2 separate regions of the Homo sapiens genome follow, and region 2 is linked to region 1. The links come from fine-mapping of genetic effects on plasma protein levels. A gene starts in region 1. The other region holds a variant in brackets. All regions are shown on one strand. Distances are from middle to middle.

Region 1 (2,903 bases):
AGACCACAGTTACCACCTGCAATAAACTGAGAGACTCCTTCCTGCCGCAGGTGGAGCTGGGGGCTGGGCCCAAAGGCAGATGGAGACAGGGGAGCTGTACTCAGGCTGAAAGCCTCCCCAAAGTCTCTGCAGCTCCCTTCACCTGGTCAAGGACTTGGTCAGGTCAAGGCCAATAAGCCCCTGGGGGCAAAATAAAGACCATACAATGGGCCAGCCTAGGAGGAGGCAGAGTATTAGCCGCACATTTTGTAAGACAGCATCAAATCATTAACTCTACAAATTTTTGAAAAACTTACTATGTGCCAGGCACTTTCCGGAGGACATGAGGCATCGGGTGAAAGGAAAAAGTTAGTCAACGGCAGCCGAGATGAGCACGCTGCCCAGAATATTGTGTTTTTTTTTTTTTTTTTTTTTTCAGTATCTCACTTGGGTCCCATTTCAGATACAGTGACCAAGTCCCTGAGAGGACAACCATGTGATTCTGTTCATGTAGCCCATTCGTGCAGGACTGGGCCTGCCATCATGTGTATTTTGTGCTTCTGAAGATCATTTTTCAGCAGTGGGGGTAAGAGTGATGAATTTGGCCAGGCACAGTGGCTCATGCCTGTAATCCCAGCAATTTAGGAGGCTGAGACAGGAGGATTGCTTGAGGCCAGGAGTTCGAGACCAGCCTGGGCAACATAGTGAGAACCCCCACCCCCACCCCCACCACCGCCTGCCATCTCTACAAAAATATAACGAATTAGCTGGGCATGGTGGTACATGCCTGTAGTCTCAGCTACTTGGGAGGCTAAGGCAGGAGGATCACTTGAGCCCAGTGGTTCAAGTCTATAGTTAGTCATAATTACGCCGCTGCACTCCAGCCTGGGTAACAGAATGAGACCCCAACTCAAAAAAAAAAATGAATTTGGATTGAGTTAAAGGGAGACCTCTCCCTCTCTTCCAATTGAGAAATATCACCCCTTTGAGAGTGAGAGTGCACTGTAGGCTCTACAGCTGAAATGTCTTGAGAGATGGTAGCCCTCACGTTCCTGACTTTGGAGTCTGACTGCAGCGCAGAGAGGGGCCCAAAGTCACACAGCAAGTGCGCACCTGAGATGGGACTAGGACGGGCGTGAAGACAAGCTGCACGGAAGAGCGTAAGCTCCAAGAGGAGGTCAAAGGTGGAGCAGGTGAGTCTTGGTTCTTCTGGGACCCCCAGAAACCACCCCTCTTTACAGCCTCAGTAGAACCACTCCCCCTTCTCCTTGAGCTTGTTTTTTTCCCAACAGCAAATAAAGCCCAGTCCCAGTCGGGGCAGGGGAGACCATTCTTCCTCACCTGTCTCCAGGCCATCCAAGAACAAAAGCAAGCATACTTACTGGTTTGTCATCAAAGGCTTGGGAAGACAGCTCTGCTGAGACGCATGCTCTGGCTGGACAGGTTAGGGCTTTGGGGGCCCTTCTGGAAGTCTGCCAGTGTCCTTGGTCCTAGGACACCCAGAACTCTCTCAGCCTGGGAGGATCTTCAGGGAGAGGCTAGGTGTTGGTTTGGGTAGCTCAGCATCTGTCTGCAGTCAGCAGTTTGTACACCAGGGATGGATCAGCTGCCCCATGCTCCTTAGGGATTCTGGACTGGGGAACCCTCCCAAGCACAGCCGAGCCAGGGAGGGAAGGCCCAGGGCCCTTTGAGCTCTGTCACAGAGACACAGGCGTGGGGTCCTTGGAGCTCTAGCTCCGACTGCAGACTCTGTGGTTCTCACAACCACCCGTTTCCTCTGACGGCATCACAGACCGTCGAGGAGCCACCTTCCCCAAGTTCCTGTTTCTAGGGGAGCAGCTGCTGCCTTGTCATGATCGTGGAGCAAAAGGTTTTTCTCTGGCTTTGTGGCTTAGTCTTGTCCAAGGAACACAGGACTGAGGAAAATGAGCCGGAGTTCCCATGCTGGCCTGACCATAATAATCACTCAGCGGGACTTAATTGTAGCAATTTCTGGGATCTCCCAAACTTTCTAAATCCAAGTCTCCAGATAGGGAGCCCAGGAATCTAAATTTTAAACCCTGCAGGAGATTCCCTTGACTGACGAGTGTGGGAAGCACTGCCTTCTCAGCCTTTAATGTGTATAGGAATCACCTGGGGATCTTGTTGCACTGCAGGCTCTGATTCAGAAGGTCTGGGGCAGAGTTCAGTATTTTGCATTTCTAATACGCTCCCAGGTGACCCCCATGTTGCCAGTCTGGGGACCACACTTTGAATAGCAGCAGTATCTGGACAGTGGTCTCCAAGTATGGTCCCTAGACCAGCAGCCTCAGCGGGAATTTGTTAGACATGCAAATTCTCAGGCCGCATCCCAGATCTATGGAATCATACTCTGGAGGTAGGCCCAGCAATCTGTTTTCATGCCTCCAGGTGATTCCGATGCATGCCCAGGCTTGATTTTTTTTTTTTTTTTTTTTTTTTTTTTTTTACAGGGTCTTGCTTTGTCACCCAGGATAGAGTGCAGTGGCACAATCATAGCTTAGTGCAGCCTTGACCCAGGCTCAAGTAATCCTCCCTTCTCAGCCTTGAGTAGCTAGGACTACAGGTGTGCACCAGCACTCCTGGCTAATTTTAAATTTTTTTTGTACAGATGAGGTTTCACTGTGCTGCTCCATCTAATCTCAAACTCCTGGCCTCAATTGTTCCTCCCACTTCCACCTCCCTAAGTGTTGGGATTACAAGCATGAGCCACAGTCCATGCCCAAGCTTGAGAATCACTGGTCTAGGATAAAGAATCTGACTCTGGCTGAATTGTCTTTGATCAGTGTGTTACCTTCAGTCCCACTCTTCATTAAGATTTAACCACACCCTCTCGCTGCTTCCCCATTAGGGGGATTAGTACTCTTGGAGACAAAGGGCCCACTGCACTGAAATGATTCCTGACT
Region 2 (2,903 bases), 32 kb before region 1:
ATCCCAGCACTTTGGGAGGCCAAGGTGGGTGGATCACCTGAGGTCAGGAGTTCGACACCAGCCTGGCCAATGTGGTGAAACCCCATGTCTACTAAAAATACAAAAAAATTAGCCAGGCATGGTGGTGTACGCCTGTAATCCCAGCTATTCTGGAGGCTGAGGCAGGAGAATTGTTTGAATCCAGGAGATGGAGGTTGCAGTGAGCTGAGATCGTGCCATTGCACTCCAGCATGGGCAACAGGGCAAGACTCCGTCTCAAAAAAAAGAAAAAGAGCTGGGGCTGTTGTCCTCAATGGGGGACATTTGAGGACCTAGACTGTCCGAAGTCTTTCTCTTTGCTCTGGAGGTCACATAGAGCCTGGACCATCCAAGATCTGCTGCTACGGTAAGACATCATCTCAGCTTTCCTTTCCCTTCTAGGCCACAGTCCTACCTTCTGAGGTATGGTGGTGGTCTCAACGAGACTTGTAGATTTTCTGAAAATGACTTTCTCGTTGACTCTAGGGGTTGTTTCTACCTTGTGGGTGGGGCCTGGTTAATGGTGGGGATGTAGAATGGGGCTCAACAGGCAGGGCATCCAGATGGTACTGGAAACCCCAAACTCAAGAACTAACTAGGTCAGACCCCCCAGGAGGCTTATTCTCTTTTTGGAACCCTGGCCCTGGTCCCACCTTCTCTGCACTCGCACTAGAGGTCGCAGGTGGGATCATGGCACTGGAAGGAAGTAGGTGACTTCTAAGGGCTAAGAGAGGAAAGAGCAAGGGTACAGGTGGGACCCTAGATGCACCTCTGTGTCCCACCCTCCCTCCCTGAGTGCACAGCCTTGCCTCTGGGGTGCCCAGGAGGCTGAATTGGGGTTCTAGGTGTGCAGCCTTGGTTTCCCTTTTGGCCTCTCCTTTGGGCCTAGGCATCATCCAAAGAGACAGCCTCGTCATTCAGGCTGATGTAGAAGCTGAGGGACTCCCGGAGACCCTCACTGAGAAGAGACTCCTCCCCTGTGGCAGCTTCAGAAAACAGGAGGGAGCTGTGGACAAAGGAAGATAATTGGGTCAAGAAGCCTCTTCCTCCTCCCTGTACTCACTACACACAAAATTGCACTGTTCTCAAAACCCTTCACTCCTGCTGAGGACCTCATGGGGCTCCCCTGTTCCCTATCAGATCAGCTTCCCCAGCCCCACCTGTCGAGCCTGGGCCGTGCTCCAGGAGTTGAGTCAGTGCACTCTGGCTCCAGCTGCCAGGTGTCCCTGAGTGTGACAGGTACATTCCGGGTTGTGGCTTCCCAGGGGTGGGTCCTTCTAACTCTTGGTCCTGCTTTCATGTTTCCAGGAGTCCCCAACTTTACCTGTCCAGCTCTTTCCAGTTGAGTGGTGTCCTCTGCACAGTCACAGGTAGGGGTATATCCTTGCCAGGGAGCGGGCCAGCCCTCTGCA[G/A]GACACAGGGCTCCTTGAGTAGGCAGCAGATGTCATCCGCCAGCTCTGAGGAAGAGACCTCCATCCCTGACATGACTGACTCCACCCTACTTCTCCCCAACAGCCCTCACCCTGACAGCCCTCTGCAGTTGGCAGGAGGGGGCATGGTTACCAAAGAGTGATAGGACATGAGCCCCAAGCTATTGGTTTCATGGAGACAGATGTAGTCAAAGGTCTTTCTGGGCTAACTTTTGGGAGACAGTCACTGTATGATTTAGGGTGAGTTCATGGACCTCTTGAGCTCAAGTTTCTGGTTAGGAAATTGCTTTGGGAAGAAGAAAGCTAAGGAATGCTCAGTCTACTTCTACTCACTGTCTACTTCCACACAGAGTGACCTGCAGAAAACCCCTAATGAGTTTTCACAAGAGTGCTCTTCCCTCTCTGCCCCCTGACGCTGTGCCCAGTGACTGCATCTTCCAGTGTCTGTTGAAGGACAGGCACCAGGAAGTACTAAGGAGAGTCAGGATTGAATCCCACACAGCAGCAGCTCTGTGCCCGGTTCCTGTGGAGAGAACTCTGCCTGCTGCCAGGGGCTCTGAGTCAGAACCAGAGTGGTAGGCAAGGTACTGACCTGAGCCTACACAGGAGGTCTGTGGCTTTTCTGCCAGGGCACGAGGTGAAGACAGGGCTCCCAGCCTGCATTTCTTGGCATAGGGACTGGCGTGAAAATAGGGGAGGCCGCTCTTCTGTCTGTCTGAATACTCCACAGTAGGTAAAATATCCAAGGGCACCACTGCCTGCTCCTCCCCACAGACTATCCCAGCCTAGTCCTGGAGGCAGGGAAAGGCCATACCAGAGTAATGGTCCACCAGGGCCTGGAGTGAGGGGAAGGTGAGGCGCGGTGAGATGTACAGCCAGCCATTGTCAAGGCAGTGGATCCTGTAGTGTCTGATCCGGTCCCAGGATGCAGGGCGGCTGAGGCGGACTGACAGAGAGTAAGAGCCTGAGGAGAAAGGGGTCCAGGGGTGGCACTGAGGCCCTGCTGGGACTCGGCCCCACCTAGGCTGGGAAACGAAGATAGGCAACGTGACCATGGGGCCCCGGCAGAAGGGAAGTGTCTGGGGCAGAAGCAGGACAAAGACTTGCTCTCTTGGTCATCAATAATATGTTCATAATAGATGGGGGTCTTGTGAGGGTGAAATCAAATCACACACAGAGCCCTCAGTACAGGGTCTGGCACTGTGTGAGTGAACATTCAGCGTTGGCTGTTCTTACAAAGACTCAGGTGGCAGATATGTTAGGATGCAAAAACACTGTCAAGAAGATGCTGGCAAGGAAGTGGAGAAGTAGGACCTCCCACCCTGCTGGTGGAAGAGAAATTAGTACGAGCCACCTTGGAAACAGTTTGGCATTAACTAGATGAGCTGAACATGCACGTACCTTACAACCCAGCAGTTCTTCCCAGGCACAATACCTCAGAAGCACACAAGCAAT

Direction of the effects. Alleles are on the strand shown, and positions count from the first base shown. The strength of an association depends on the size of the effect and on how common the allele is.
With allele A in place of G in region 2, the plasma level of the protein whose gene starts at base 1,721 in region 1 is lower (moderate association).

The links. A credible set is the group of variants that fine-mapping cannot tell apart. PIP is the posterior inclusion probability: the model's chance that the variant is causal. Protein levels are from antibody-based Olink assays in UK Biobank. Linkage for the fine-mapping came from a reference panel and not from the study's own genotypes, which makes the PIPs less certain.
Region 2: its variant is the best candidate, but not a certain one, in a credible set for the plasma level of the SLA2 protein (UK Biobank, PIP 0.60). The variant lies in the coding sequence of SLA2. If it changes the protein, the assay may bind it differently, which can mimic a change of level.

The regions. Positions count from the first base shown.
Region 1 is chr20:36,644,476-36,647,378 of GRCh38, forward strand. It overlaps SLA2 (Src like adaptor 2), which reads right to left and starts at 1,721. Exons shown (of 8, transcript NM_032214.4): 1 at 1,362-1,721.
Region 2 is chr20:36,612,963-36,615,865 of GRCh38, forward strand. SLA2 (Src like adaptor 2) reads right to left here. Exons shown (of 8, transcript NM_032214.4): 6 at 2,263-2,412; 7 at 1,343-1,475; 8 at 1-1,024. The coding sequence ends at 904. Among named protein-coding and RNA genes, the nearest start is that of RAB5IF, 8.6 kb to the left of the region's middle. The variant G/A (reference allele first, on the strand shown) is at 1,431.